Regions from separate parts of the Homo sapiens genome. Here region 2 is linked to region 1. The links come from fine-mapping of genetic effects on gene expression. Tissue or cell type: whole blood. Region 1 holds a variant in brackets; the other region holds the start of a gene. All regions are shown on one strand. Distances are from middle to middle.

Evidence for each region. PIP is the estimated chance that this variant, and not a neighbour inherited with it, causes the effect.
Region 2: it holds the start of PRDM4, and the variant in region 1 is fine-mapped to the expression of PRDM4 in whole blood (INTERVAL, PIP above 0.99).

What each region holds. Positions count from the first base shown.
Region 1 is chr12:107,691,750-107,699,857 of GRCh38, forward strand. It overlaps PWP1 (PWP1 homolog, endonuclein), which reads left to right. Exons shown (of 15, transcript NM_007062.3): 4 at 1,065-1,150; 5 at 1,251-1,347; 6 at 4,725-4,835; 7 at 5,718-5,848; 8 at 7,624-7,685. Among named protein-coding and RNA genes, the nearest start is that of PWP1, 10 kb to the left of the region's middle. The variant A/G (reference allele first, on the strand shown) is at 3,971.
Region 2 is chr12:107,756,853-107,764,960 of GRCh38, forward strand. It overlaps PRDM4 (PR/SET domain 4), which reads right to left and starts at 4,285. Exons shown (of 12, transcript NM_012406.4): 1 at 4,105-4,285; 2 at 3,653-3,919; 3 at 1-113. The coding sequence starts at 3,663. PRDM4-AS1 (PRDM4 antisense RNA 1) reads left to right here. Exons shown (of 5, transcript NR_120474.1): 4 at 1,423-1,540; 5 at 2,920-3,116. RefSeq lists silencers at 3,836-3,945, 3,996-4,575.

The sequences.
Region 1 (8,108 bases):
TATTGTCATTTATCCATTTTTCCATCTAGATGTTCATTCCTCCGTTTTCCTCATTCGCTTGGCCATCTGTCCTATGGATTACTATTAACTTCATTTTTCATTATCTGCAGTACTTAGAAAGGAATCATTACCTCCATTTACCAGCGGCACACAGCTGGTGAAAGACGGTGCTGAGTTTTGACCACTCTCGGGCTCTAAAGCCTTCATTCTTTTCACTGCATCTTTTCTATAGATACAGTCCAGCAGAGGATAGTTTTTTCTATTGGACTCTGGGTTATGGGCTCCAACCTTGTTAGGGACAGAGTGCCATAGAAATACAGAGAAACAAATAACCCAGCCTGGAGAGATGGCATTCAGAATCAGCTCTTTCTCGTGTAGCAGAAATTGCTTTCTCTGTTGCATATCAGATGTTTAAGACCTATCAGTCCTGCCTCCTTAAAGTGGCTTCCTCTAACAATTCAGTGTATCTTCCTTTTCCTGAGTTATCCTTTGTTACCATCGTAGATGTGCCATAAAAGAATAATTTAAGTTCAGTGGAAAAAGCATACTGCATTTCTTTTTTCATATGCCAATAAGGCATATTAGCATATCAGAACACGTGCAGTAGAGCAACCTGGTTAATTTTTTGAAACCTGTCATTTCTCAATTTTATTTGACCAGGCAACCCTTATTTATTATGTTGATTTCAGTGTTTCAGGGTCATTTTATTTCCAGGTCCTCAAGGCTGCCTCTCCGTATCACCTTCAATCATGAATGCAGGGAGCTAGCTAGAGAATCTCAAGAGAGTTCTCATATTTTCTAAAAGGGTCTAATTCCCTGATACAGTTCTTTCATTGGAAGATTGTGAATTCCAAGACTGTCTGAAATCCATTCCAAAGGTCAAATACAAAAATGGCTTTTAAATTCCTGCTGCTGCTTACGTAGTTTCCTTTCCCAACTCTAGATGATCCAGAGTTAGTTATAAAATAGATGATTGCATCTAAGTCCAAGAATGGATGTCATAGGAAATATGTTTTTGTCAAGATGACTATTTTATTATTGTAGTTTGTCAATTTTTCTTACAGATGCTGAGACTCTTGGTGAATCTCTCTTGGGTCTTACGGTCTACGGGAGTAATGATCAAGATCCTTACGTTACTCTGAAAGATACAGTAAGTATTTACATCTTTTTTCTAATTATGCTCTTAAGTGTTCAAAAAACCTTACTGGCTCTCTGCTTCTAGTCAATGACATTTTTTTCCTCTCACTTAGGAACAATATGAACGTGAAGATTTCTTGATTAAGCCCAGTGATAATCTTATAGTTTGTGGCCGAGCTGAACAGGACCAGTGCAATTTAGAGGTGCATGGTAAGTGATAAATCCCTTATTAAAAGATTTTCTAAGTGATGGTAAAATAATAAGTGAAATAGTTACCATTTCATTTTTAGGTGCCAGATCCTATTGTATCTCATTTAAGTTGGTTACATAGTTAACTTTTACACAGGTGGCCAATTTCTTGGTTATTGTTCTGGGTATGTGTAGTCCAGTACATCACTTTGGTATCTGAATTTTCTATGGAAATAAATCCCCTGGAAATTTTTCATAGGGGTGTTTTTTTTTGTTTTTATATATAAACAGGGTCTCACTGTGTTGCCCAGGCTGTCTCGAACTCCTGGGCTGACGTAATCCTGATTTGGCCTCCCAAAGTGCTGGGTGCTGGATTACAGGTGTGAGCCACCACACCTGGCCTCATAGAGGTTTTTAATCTTTTATTTAAATGTGATTGCCTGTTTTTCACTCCTCTCCTACTCCTGCTATAAAAAACCTGGAAGTAAAATTATATATAAAAATACAAGGCTGGGTGCGGTGTCTCACACCTGTAATCCCAGTACTTTGGGAGGCTGAGGTGGGAGGATTGCTCGAGCCCATGAGTTCTAGGCTACAGTGAGCTGTGATTCTGTTTGCTCCACTGTACTCCAGCCTGGGTGACAAAGACCCCATCTCTAGGGGAGAAAAAAATGTATAATCCCATTTCCCTGAGTTAATAACTTGCCACCTTGGTTTTTTACTCAATTTTTTTTTCTGGCTACTTTTTCTTTATGTGGATTATACTGGATAGACAGGTTTTTCTCATGTTTTTTAAATAGAGTTATTTCAGATATTTCCCCTTTGCAAAACATTTTATTTTCTTCCTAATAATTCAACACAAAGGGCCACGTTTCTTTTTTGGAACCAAAACATCGTGATCACCTTTCTTACTTAAGGAATATTTGTATCAAAGCCAGAAGCGGATGCTTTGCAGTAATCAGAAGTAGGCATGAAAATAGGAATTTTTAAATTGTATTTTTAAATGTTGTTTTTGATTTAATATTAATTGAATGGCTTGCCTCACTTTGGTGTTTTTAATGTAAAATCTGTTTTTTATATGCTAAAAGTAGACTTGCACAATGTCTGGCGCACTCTGCCTACAGATTCTCCGTTTTGTTTTTCTTGTCCCTTCCACTGCGCTCATATCCTCAGACAAGTCCATCCTTGCCCGATACTCTCCTCCCCCAGCAGTCTTCAGATCGTCTTGAAACTTTGAAGATTCGAAGAGATTATTAGGCTGATAAGTCCTTTTGTTATAGGAAACACAGTTGCACAGCTTGAAAAAATAAAACCCTTAGGCTTAATGTTTATCGCCATCTTCTAGGTTGCTTCATCATGGCTTCCATTGATTAGCTTGGATTTCTGTTACCTCTTCAGAATCTTTAAGGCTGTCCGTGGGAAGCCTATAGATTAGGCCCATTTTATCTCATGGCTCATTGTGATCTGTTTATGCATAGCAGGCACTTTAATGTGAAATTATTCTTTCTAACTCTTGATATCTTTGAACTTTTACATATTTCAAATGAAAACCATTTGTTTACTTTGCTTTTAAGACCAATTCTAATTTCAAAAAATTGAGAACCTATTAGAGTTTTTTTTGTCATCATCGATTTTTTTATGCATTCTTACCTGAGAACTTAACAGTCATTCCTTTGAACTCAGGATCAAAGAGGAGCTGAGAAAGAAGTTAAAGCTGTTATATTTCCATTTCCTTCTCAGTTAGGTTATTATAGATATACTTTATTATTTGGGTTTGGAAGGAATCTCCAAATTGCCCAGTATGTGTGTGCAAGAATAACTTCAAATTTATATTCTAAAACTGATCCGAATATTGATCTCACGTGGTTAAGAGTATATTTTAAAGTATTATTACCAGTTGCTGGGCGTAGTGACTCATGCTTGTAATCCCAGCAATTTGGGAGGCCAAGGCGGGCGGATCACGAGTTCAGGAGATCGAGACCATCCTGGCTAACACGGTAAAACCCAGTCTCTACTAAAAATACAAAAAAAAAAAAAAAAATCAGCCAGGCGTGGTGGCGGGCGCCTGTAGTCCCAGCTACTCGGGAGGCTGAGGCAGGAGAATGGCGTGAACCTGGGAGGCAGGGCTTGCAGTGGGCTGAGATCGTGTCACTGCACTCCAGCCTGGGCGACAGAGCAAGACTCCATCTCAAAAAAAAAAAAGTTATTACCAATTTTATGTAAAATGTAAGCTGAGTATATCGAACATGGTTGAGGTTTTTGTAGAACCACAGTCTAATAATTTTGAACATGAATTCTCATCACAGGGATGTGATAGAGCATTACACAAATCTGCTAATCCCAGGATCTATTCCAGAAGCAGCAATCTGAGGAATTAAAAATAAAATCCTTAATTTATTATATATTTACCTCCTTCTTAATACAAAGCATATGGGGAGGGGTTCTGACTAGTGGGTTCTGTTTTATCAGTGTTTCACTGTGTAATTTTTAAAAGACTTCTTACTCATTGATTTTACAATGTTTTTGCTGCTTAACATTACAGCTGTGAATATTAAGGAGCTGTTGCCATATTCCAAAAGTATGTCCTCAGGAGCTTTGTTTACATTGTTCATCTTCATAAACCTTTTTTAAAAATATTAAGAGT[A/G]ATTTTTGATAAGCATTTAGATTTCCAAATATGAATTATTTCTCTCCCATGCTATTTTTGGTTTGTTCTTTTTGACTTATAATCAGCTAGACCATTAAAAGATAAAATAATAACTACTTCTTGTAGTTATGAACATTATGAACTTATGAACATTTGTTTTCTATGAATGACCTAGAAGACAGGACCATTTATCTGACAAGGATGCAGGTGGACTATCAGATGTCAGTGTTCATTTTCTCCTGTGGGGTATGCCACAAGATGGCACTGTATTAGACATGCAGAATTTTTGCCTAGTCATGATATTGGAATCTTTTTTTTTTTTTTTTTTTTTGAGATAGAGTCTCACTATGTCGCCCAGGCTGGAGTGCAGTGGTGCGATCTCAGCTCACTGCAACCTCCACCTCCCAGGTTCAAGCTATTCTCCTGCCTCAGCCTCCCTAGTAGCTGGGACTACAGGCACGTACCACCACACCCAGCTAATTTTTGTATTTTGAGTAGAGACGAGGTTTCATTGTGTTGGCCAGGCTGGTCTCGAACTCCTGACCTCAAGTGATCCGCCCACCTTGGCCTCCCAAAGTATTGGGATTACAGGCACGAGCCACTGCGCCCAGCCTGGAATCTCTTTATAATATCAGATGTCTCACTTTAAAGCACATGGCTCACGTACATTTAATAGAATTTGTTTTTTTGAGCGGGATGTGATTTTTGATGACTCATTCTGATACATTAAAGTCTCTTTTCCCAATCTTTTCAGTTTATAATCAAGAAGAAGACTCTTTTTATGTACACCATGATATACTCTTGTCTGCATATCCTCTGAGTGTGGAATGGCTGAATTTTGATCCTAGCCCAGATGATTCTACTGGTAATTAGAAAACTTAAGGTTGTTCAATGATTTCCAGTCTTATGTATTTTCTCCTAGCTCCATAAATTATGTATTCTCTTGAATGTTTTCAGAATTGTTGCTGATATTTTCTGAAGTTACTGTTATTTTATGAAGTTATAGAGTTCTTAACACACCATCACTTTATTGTTTGGGGTTCATAAATCCCCAGACTTCAGGTAGGCTAAGGAGGTAGCTGCTCTACTACAGGCTGAAGGACAGGGCCTGAAGCCTTTTGGACTGTAGAACTGTAAAGGTCCCATAAAGACTCAGTATAAATGGCCTGATATGTGAGATGTTACCAGCTAGAGTTCAGTGGCATAACCTGTTTTAGAAAACATAAGCTAAAACCGAAATGAAGAGGCTTGTCACAAGTAATTAGGTTTTCATGTTAGTCTTTGTAACCACATCTGCACACTATTAGTTGCCCCTGTCCGTACTTTTTAATAAAGGTAAACACTGTTTATACTGTCTTACGTCTTGTTTGCACACCTTGTTCACATTCATGATCTGATCTGATCTTCATCCCCACAGCACCCCATGAAGGAGGACGGGAGGAGGGTTATTCTCGTTATATAAATGAAAACACTGGGGCCAAGAGATTGAGCCTTTCCTACTCAAATTGTGGCCCAAAGACCAGCAGCAGCACAGCATGGTTATCACCTGTGACCTAGTTAGAAATGCCCACCCAGAACCACCTGAAATACAATCTGCATTTGTAACATTCAGATGCCGCATATGCATATAAGTTTGAGAAGCACTGCTCTAAAGCATTTTTCAGTTAATCTACAGTATAATGTATTTGATTAGAAGTTCTGTATGTCTTTTTTTGTGTAATCATACATGCATTGTTTCCTCCCATAGGAAATTACATTGCTGTAGGAAACATGACCCCTGTTATTGAAGTGTGGGACCTTGATATAGTGGACTCTTTAGAGCCAGTCTTCACACTCGGAAGTAAACTTTCAAAAAAGAAGAAAAAGAAAGGAAAGAAGGTAAAGAAGTTAATAAATATTTAAACTCTAATGACAGAGGTAAGTTTACTCGGGAGTAGGGGTGAAGGGTAAGACCGTACACTTTTTCAATCAGGTATTCTTGGTGAGATGGGGTAGGTAGTTATGAAATTATTGTAATTTTTAGTTTTGAAAAGGCCATCCAAAGAAAACTTATTTCTGATTACATAAAACCTCCATTATCATGTTGTTCTTTCTTACACAAAACTAGTTCAAAGCTAGTATATTAATATGAATAGCTACTATAGATGAAGGACTTTCGGATTATGAGCCTCCTCCAAATACAGTAGCTATTTATACAGATATACCAACCTTGAACTTTAAAAAAATTTCTGTTATCATGTTGAATTCTAATTATCCATGTATTAACTCCTGCAGCTTTTAAAATCGTTAGGTTTTATGAGGGTTGGGAGCTATATTGATACTTGTATAATTACAGTACCTAGATTAAGAACTGCTAGGCCAGGCCACGCACGTGGCTCACTCCTGTAATCCCAGCAGTTTAGGAGGCTGAGGCGGGTGGATCACCTGAGGTCAGGAGTTCGAGACCAGCCTGGCCAACATGGTGAAACCCTGTCTCTACTAAATATACAAAAATTAGCCAGGCATGTTGGTGTGTTCCTGTAATCCCAGCTACTTGGGAGGCTGAGGCAGGAGAATCACTTGAACCTGGGAGGCAGAGGTTGCAGTGAGCTCACACCACTGCACTCCAGCCTGTGTGACAGAGCGAGACTCTGTCTCAAGGGAAAAAAAAGAACTGCTAGGCCAGTCATAGTAGCTCACGCCTATAGTCCTAGCACTTTGGGAGGCCAAGGTGGGAGGAGTGCTTGAGCCCAGGAGGTTGAGGTTGCAGTGAGCCATGATTGTGTGCCACTGCACTCCAACCTGGGTGACAGAGCGAGATTTTGTCTCTAAAAAAATAAACTACTATAGTTTCTTCCCTGTTCCTTGTAATGAAATTTTTTTCTTTATTTTTCTTTTTTAAAGAGGTAAGGTCTTGCTCTGTCTCCCAAGACTGGAGTGCAGTGGCACGATTATAGTTCACTGCAGCCTGAAACGCCTAGGCTCAAGAGATCCTGGGATTCTCCTGCCTCAGCTTCCTGAGTAGCTGGGACTATAGGCGTATGCTGCCATGCCTGGCTAAGTTTTGACTTTTTTGTAAAGACAGAGTTTCGCTATGTTGCCTGGGCTGGTCTCGAACTCCCGGCCTCAAGCGATGTTCCCACGTTAGCTTCCCAAGGTCCTGGGATTACAGTGTGGGCCGCTGCACCCAGCCCCTGTAATGAAATTAATCATGAGTCTCTAACAGGGAGACAAGGTTTTATTTATTTTATTCTTCAAAAGTTTATATAATATCAAAACAATAGGTCGGGTGCAGTAGCTCACACCTGTAATCCCAACACTTTGGGAGGCCGAGAGTGGATCATGAGGTCAGGAGTTCCTGACCACCCTGGCCAACGTGGCAAAACCCTGTCTCCACAAAAAATATAAAAATTAGCTGGGCATGGTGGCATGCGCGTGTAATCCCAGCTACTTGAGAGGCTGAGGCAGGAGAATCGCTTGAATCCAGGAGGTGGAGGTTGCAGTGAGCTGAGATCGTGCAACTGCACTCTAGCCAGGGCAACAGACAAAGACTCCGTCTCAAAACAAAACAAAACAAAATAATCTTAAGGTTTAAAGAATTTTGCAGATTAATATATTCAGTTTTATTATGAGGGGGACTTTAATACAAAAAATAATTAAAACAATTATTACAGAGTTCCTCAGCAGAAGGGCATACCGATGCTGTCCTTGACCTTTCATGGAATAAGCTAATCAGGTAAAAAGAAATAACATTTGAATGATTGTAAAAGACTGTAGCCATTGTGATCTTACCTCATGCCTACACTCATCTCTTTATTTGTGCTGTGGACCTTTGTGTCTATCTTCCTTTCTTGTAGGATGCCCTGCTTGCAGGCAGGAGCTCTGTCATCTGTTTCTTTGCATCCTCCAGGTCACCTGCCAGCTCATCACTGTGGGTGCTCATTGCATGTTTGGTGACCAAGTGCCCTCTCTCCACCACCACTGGAAAAAAACAGGGTGTTTGGCAGTGCCCATGGTGCAGTAGGATTGTGTTTCTTCCCAGGAGACATTTTTCTCTGTTTAGTTTTCACATCTCACCACATACTCTTTTATTCTTTTTTCTTTAAATTATGGCAAAATACATATAACATAAAAGTTAACACTTGTATTAGTCTGTCTT
Region 2 (8,108 bases), 65 kb after region 1:
GAGTGGGTGAGGCAGCCAATCCCAGGTGACTTCCTGAGACTGGCAAGGCATTGCTCACAGAGGATGAAGTCAGCTGCTCCATCCCCACTGGACTCAGGTTCATTTCATTCATCCTAGAAAAGAGCACACACAACTAGTTATGCAAAAATTTACTCCAATGACTCTGTATTAAGATACTGAAGAAACTGAAACAGTGGGGATGGGGAAATGGGACTTGGCCAACTATTAGTTCACTTTTACGCTCAACAATTCTCTTAGATAGCTAGTGCCATATTCTTTCTACTGATAAGAAAACTGAGATTGAGACATTAAAAACTCAATTCAATGTCACATAGCAGAAATAGGATTTGAATTCTGCCTTGTTCGAAACTCTAGGCACACCATCTAAAGCAAAGTCTGCAATTCTTAGAGCACAATGGCAATGACAGTTTTTTTTTAAATCACTCAAGCTTCATCTTTTATAATATTTATTTTTCTCCAAATGGCTTATTATTTCAAACCAGTAGTGTTTTAGGCAGCGCATTTTAACCTACTCAAGTAAATTTTACTAATCATTTTTAATAGGAGTTAAAGATCCAGATTATCGATGATGTGAAAAGCATCGTATTTTCCCCATTCAGCAACAGTTTACTAAGATTCTGTATCAGTATATTAATGTCCTCCAAATATTGAGGGTCATTATGTAAGCTTTGCTACCACTTCACTTAAAATGACTTCAAATCCTCACACCAATACTGCAACGTAAGATAGATGAGGGAACTATGGCTCAGAGAGGCCATGTCATATGCCCCAAATCACATAGCTATTAAGTGAAAGATCACAGATCAAACTGCAAAACACTGCCAAAAAGTTTTTCATTGCACCAAACTTTTTTTTAACTGCACCAAACTTTTTTTTTAACTACAGACTATTTTTGGCAAGGTGAAGAACCTAGGAATCACCTTTTCTATGCAAACCATCTTGCACTGCCATTACAAATGTCTTTCGAATAAGAGTAATACTGATTTGAATAAAACAGCACTGAAGGTTGTTATCAAAAAGTATTAGTTCTTATATCATAATTTAGAGACTGCCATACTATAAACATTACAGAACCACTAGGCTAGCCAACAGGTTACCCAAAAGGGGCTCTCTAATGACCTCCAGTCCTTACACTGGGCTTTATTCTCTGCGTATGGGAGGGGGTGAAGCAGAGAAGAGGAATCAAATGAGGTTACATATTCCTTAGCAGTGAAATCAAATCTAAATAGGTTTTTAATTCTGAAAAATGGCAATGCCATTTTATCAATCAACCTGAAAATAATAATAGCTAAAATTTATGGCTCCCTTACCATGTGCTATGTATTGGGCTAAGTGATTTATATGTAACTATCTCTCTTAATCTTCTTTTTTTTTTTTTTTTTTTTTTTGTTTTTGAGACAGGGTCTTGCTCAGTAGCTGCAAGCTGGAGTGCAGTGGCGTGATCACAGCTGACTGCTGCCTCTACCTCCTAGGCTCATGAGATCTTCCCACCTCAGCCCCCAAGCAGCTGGGACCACAGGCAAGTGCCACCATGCCTGGCTAATTTGTTTTTATTTTGCAGAGATGGGGTCTCCCTATGTTGCCCAGGCTGGAGGTAGGTATTATTCTTAATCCCACTTTAAAGATGAGGAAACTTAAGATTCAATGATGCTAGGAAACTTAACCCAGAATCACATAACCAGTAAGGAGAGCTGGGATTTAAATTCAGAACTAATTTAAGAAACCAAAGCTCTTAACTATAGTAAGAAAAAGACAATTACAATAAAAGAACTATATTGCCTTTTACACAGTTGCAATACATTAGGGCCTATCTACTTATATTGTGGCGTATATTTAAAGTTCCACATAGACCTGTTTCTTGCATTATTAGGTTTCACCCTTATCCCTGGCCATGGATCCCATAAAACTAAGCTCTAAGACATCAATAAAATGTAAAAGGCCAACCTAGTACCTTGTATAGAACAGACATTCTGAATTTTCTTATTTTATCGGATGGAGCTATGCAAACTCATCACCCTTACCAGAAAGACAGCTAGAAGCACCTGGCAAATGAGGTACACCTTATGAAGAACAGCATGCTAATAACAGTTTTTATTATGCTATAAAATAAAGCAGCCCAGGTGTGGTGATTTACACCTGTAATCCCACACTTTGGGAGGCCAAGGCAGAAGGATCGCTTGAGCCCAGGACTTGGAGACGTCCCTAGGCAACACAGTGAGACCCCTGTCTCTACTAAACATTTTTTTTAACTTAGCCAGGCATGGTGGTTCGTGCTTGTGGTTCCAACTACAGGGGAGGCTGAAGTGGGGAGGTCGGGGCTACAGTGAGCTCTGCCTGTACCTCTACACGCCAGCTGGGGTGACAGAGTGAGACTGTGTCTTAAAAACAAAAAAAGCAAAAAATCCCTGTAGCCTAAAGAAAACATATCTACCTTAATTTTGAAAGTTGCTGGGCTTGAGTTGGTTTAAAACAGACTTTTCCCTAACTCTTTATAGCTACAACCATAATTAAAACACTACAATCACTACAGCTGTAACAGCCTACTTAACAAATTGGTTACAATATTTTTTTAAAAGTACAACTACAAGTCTGCACCTTCAACTCTCATTCTGAAAATTCCTGAATATTTATTTAATTTCAAGATAAAAATCAGCATGGTGTTTCTAGGTTGACTCCTAGGCCTTCTCAAACCAGTTCAAACCAGAGTTTAATGCGAGAGGCTCAGCAGATTTCTGCTTTGTTGTGAGTCACTAAAACGTGATGACCTCAGCAGCCATAAACCAAAGGTAATGAGTATCCCACAGAGAGAAGGCAGATGAAGGGAATGTACAATATGATCCTCATAAGACTTTCTCATTCTAAAATGCAGTTCTATTCTCATTTTCTTTCTCCTATGAGATTCTAAGAAGCAATCCCGGAAGAAGGCAAGAATCAAGATACTAAGCTCTATCTTCCCTACTCATTTAGGGTAAAATAATTTCCTACACAGTTCTACAGTTTATGTGTGTGTTTCTAACTGACCTATGCAACCATCTGCCAGTTGCTGATTTTACACCTTTTTCTTCGCATAAAATATAATAAACTAACTGAAATGCAGCCACTTTGAAAAATGCAGTGGGGCTTCAATAATTTCAATGAATTTGTGCCTTATCTTCCTTATTCTAAACATACGGCCTTTGAAAGGGCCTTGAAAAAACAGCCAAATGCAACAATTTCTGTGGCCTGCTTCTGTACTTAAACATCAGCATGAAGCTTGCAGAATTAAGAACTTAATTCCCTCACTATCGTCCCTGCCATACCAGCAAAACTCAAGGTGAAGCATAATAAGATAACAATACACGTTGGAATCCGGAAAAATATATTAAACGCTCAAATAACTGAAAGACACAGGAAAAGGTGTCAACAAGCCAACAATAAACGTGTGGCTACTGGGAACAACTTTCCACATGTGGAGTAAATTAGGATGCATGAGATTACATTCCACCCAACACTAGTTTCTGGATTTGTTTCCTTTGCAAATCACACCTGTAACCTTCTCAATGGCACCAAAAACAACGGCACTGACCCTGGACACTCACTCGCCAGAGTTTCCAACGATGTCACCAGTGCTGAAGCCCACCTCCCTACTCACCTGTGATGCATCGGCTTGGGGCCAAATATCAGAGAAAGGAGCGCTCGGGTGGTGGGGAACAGGCATCAGGGTTTGCGTTCCAGGGTCACGTGCTACCACATCTTGCTCACAACCGCTGCACCGACGCGGCCACTCGTCCCCGGGGTCGCCCGGGGCCGCCCAACTTCTCCCGAGGGCCGGTGGCCGTGCACCCCGCCACGGGTTGGGGCATCTCGGGGAACACCTGGGGCCTTCCGTCCAGAAGCTTCGGGAAGGGGGCTGCCCAACCTGGGGGAGTGGGGACAAGAGCGGTCACCAAAACCACAACAAGGTCGCAGCCCCCATCCCAGCTACCCGAAAGCCCCAGGCGCTGCCGACACCGCCACCCAAGGGCTGTGGATTAGCCCGCCCGCGGCCCGCAGGCCGGGCCGCCGCGCCCCGCCCCGCTCCGGCCGGGCCCGCGCGCAGCCCACCTGCCAGCTGCGCTGGGGGCGCACGCGCCTGCCCCACTGCTTTGTTCCTCATCCGGGCAGAGTTCGCCTCGGGGCCCTGCCCGTCCGCTCGGCCCCCTCACCCCGGGGGCCGCTGCCCTAACGTTTCCCGTCCCGCCCGGCCCTTCCCGGCCCGCGGCCTCCTCTGGGCCGCACCCTCTGCGGCGCGTTTCCGGATCCTCAGCCACTCTCAGCGCCCGCCGCTCCGCCCCTCGTGCGTGCGCCCTCCCCGCCGCGGCCCGCAAGCGGCGCCCGCGCACCGCGTCGCCCTTCTCCCAGCCCAGGCCCCTCCGCGCGTGCGCACGGCAGAGGCACTGGCCGCGAGAGGCTCGGCCGGGAGTTCCGCGTCTCCATCCGGCCGGGTAGAATCGAGCGCCGAGCGATCGGCCCATGGTTGCTAGGCGACCAGGGCTGCTGTTCCTGCAGGGATTGAGTTTTGAATCCCCTAAATCCCGCAGACTCAGGATTTCGTCTTCATGACATTCCCCTACTAGAGAAGCATGGGTCCACACAAAGCCCCCAAAATTCGAAGTATGGGATTTGGCCCCGAGGGTTGCCTCTGCTGCCCAGGAGGAATTGGGATTCTATCCTGAATATTTTCGGCCGTCTGCTACACCTGAAGGCTGCCCAGTTTCCCTGCTTCCCGTCGTAAATGCTGGGGTTTGGGATTTTAAACAAAATTTCCTTCCCCTTTTCTCTGCCCTCAGTTCTCTACTGCGCGCCAGGCACTGTGCCTAACGCTAGGAGTACCGAGATGGCTTTAAAGGAAGGTGGTCCCAAGCTCCTGAGCAGTAGACGTTGAAATTACACCACACTGCCTGGTGGCTCCCTTACACCAGCAGAACAGCAGACCCAGGAATTCTTCCTGTCATTCACAAAGCGTCTGTTGAATTACATCTCAAACCTAGGGATACAGAGCAAGGCACAAGCCCTGACCTTCACCTGCCTGCAGTCTAGTGGGAACTGATGAATTTTGAAAATTCAGTCTAATGTGAAAGGGTAGAGGCACATGCAACCTTTTGGACGAGAGCTGGGAGGGGTGTCAACCCCCATAATGTTTCCCTTCGTTTACTTCTCATGGGGGGAAAGCACATTCCAGATGAGGAAACTTCACTGAACATTGGCAGGCAGGTCACATTGGTTTTGCTCTCTGTTGACAACAAATAGAAATCTAAATCAAGAAGGTCATCATCTCAACTGAGAGACAGTATTCCCTGAAATGCCACTTCAAATCTGGAGCCTAGAGAATGATGATGTATCTTATTACCGGCCGAATGCTTTCACTAGGTTTGGGTTTGGATGTCTGTTCTTTTGGAACAATTTTATTAAGTTGAGAGGTGAACATAAAAATCAGGTCACATAAATGTAAGAGCTAAAACCATAATACTTACAGAGGAAAATAAAGGCAAAAATCTTTGTGACCTTGATAGGACAAAAAAATCACAAACTATTAAAAAATTGGAGCAAGTGCAGTGGCTCTCTCCTCAGCACTTTGGGAAGCTGAGGTAGGAGGATCGCTTGAGCCCAGGAGTTTGAGACCATCCTGGGCAACAAAGTGAGACCCTGTCTCTACAAAAAATAAAAAAAATTAGCTGGGCATGGTGGTATGCACGTGTAGCCCCAGCTACTTGGGAGGCTGAGACAGGAGGATAGCTTGTGCCCAGGAGTATGAGGTTGCAATGAGCTAAGATTGTGCCACTGCACTCCAGCTCAGGTGACAGAGAGAGACCCTATCTCAAAAAAAAAAATGACAAATCGAACTTCATCAAAATTAAAATGGTTGATCTTGAAAAGATACTGTCAACAAAATGAGTCAAGTGAGAGACTGGGAGAAAATATTTTCAAAACAAATATCTGACAAAGGATTTGTATCTTGACTATATAAAGAACCCTTTAAACACAATAATAAGAAGACAATTAAATTTAAAAACTTAGGCAAAAATTTCAACAGCCATTTCACCAAAGAAGCTATATGGATGGCGATTAAGCACACAAAAAGATGTGCAGCATCATTAGGTATCAAAGAAATGCAAATCAAAGCACAATGAAGTGATATTACACACTTACTAGAATGGCTTCAATTAAAAAGACCAACTATAACAAGTGTTGGCACAGATATGGAGCAACTGGCACCCTCACATTTTGTTGGTGGGAATGCAAAAAAAATGCCACAGCCATTTTAGAATTTCTTTCTTTTTTCTTTCTCTCTTTTTTTTTTTAGACAGAGTTTCACTGTCACCCAGGCTGGAGTGCTGTGCTGTGGTCTCAGCTCACTGCAGCCTCTGCCTGCTGGGTTCAAGTGATTCTCCTGCCTCAGCTTCCCCAGTAGCTGGGATTACAGGTGCTCACCAGCATGCCTGGCGAACTTTTGTATTTTTAGTAGAGATGGGGTTTCACCATGTTGGCCAAGCCGGTTGCGAACTCCTGACCTCAAGTGATCCACCTGCCTTAGCCTCCCAAAGTGCTGGGATTACAGGCATGAGCAACCATGCCTGGCCAGCAATTTCTTATACCTCTTATACCATCCAATTCTCCACACTCCTTAGGTATTTACCAAAGAAAAATAAAAACATATGTACAAAGACTTGTACGCCAATGTCCATAGCTGCGTTATCTGTCATAGGCCAGAACAGGAAATGACCCAAATGTCCATCAACTGGTAAATGAATAATGATAGTGTACAGTATCTATACAGTGGAATACTCAGAAATAAAAAGGAACAAGCTGTTGATACATGGATGGATCTCAAAGACGTATTATGCTAAGTGAAAGGAACCAGACACAATAGACTACATATTATGAGTCCAGGTATGAGAAATTCTAGAAAAGGCAAAACTGTAGTAATAGAAAGCAGAGAAGTGATTGTCAGAAGTTGGGAATGGGTTGGGGGATGAGATTGCCTACAGTGGGGGCATAAGAGAACTTTTAGGAGTGATGAAAATGGTCTTGATTGTGGTAGAGGTTACACAATTGTATACATCTGTCCAAATTAATCAAATAGTAAACTTGACATTGGTGAATTTTATTGTATGTAAAAATACCTCAAAAATTCAATTAAAAAATTATGTCAAGATTAACAAAAATTGAAGTGTTCTGACTCTACTCCCCAGACTAGGCCCACTGTATGCTCTCTCATAGTACCTATCTTTATTGTAATTAATTGTTTAATTTTCTATTTTGCCAAATACATTTTAAATTTTGGGGAGAAGATTCATGTCTATCTTATTTAATGCTATACAACATAGCACTATACCTGGCATATATTAGATATTCAATGAATTTCTGATGCCTGAGGGAAAGTCAAACTGGCATAATTTGAAGCCACACATATTGACTCATATATCTATTTACTTGGAGATGTACAGCAAATGTTTGCTCAAAGATTGCCTTAACTGCTGATTTAGGGTGACTTACCCCTTTAAGGAGACTCCATGGTGCTGTTAAGACAATAAAGACAATGGAAAGGCCAGACACAGTGGCTCACACCGGTAATCCTAGCACTTTGGGAAGCCAAGTCTGGTGGATTTCTTGAGTCCAGGAGTTCAAGATCAGCCTGAGCAACATGATGAAACCTTGTCTTTACAAAAATCAGCCCGGTATGATGGTACATGCCTGTGGTCCCAGCTACTTGGGAGGCTGAGGTAGAAGGATACTTTGAGCCTGGGAGGTTGATACTGCAGTGAGCTGTGATCAGGCCACAGCCACTGCACTCTGGCCTGGGCGACAGGGCAAGACACTTCCTCAAACAACAACAACAACAAAAATGGGAGAAACTGGCCAATCACACAGGTAGAAATGAAGAGCGTCGGTGTGGCAGAACAATGAGGATATGTTCTGAGGAATGCAACCTTAGGTGATTCTGTGGTTGTGCAAACATCATAGAGTGCCCTTACATATACCTAGATGGTCTAACCTACTACACCCCTAGGCTAGATGGTATGGCCTATAGCTCCTAGGCTACAAACCTGCACAGCATGTTACTGTAC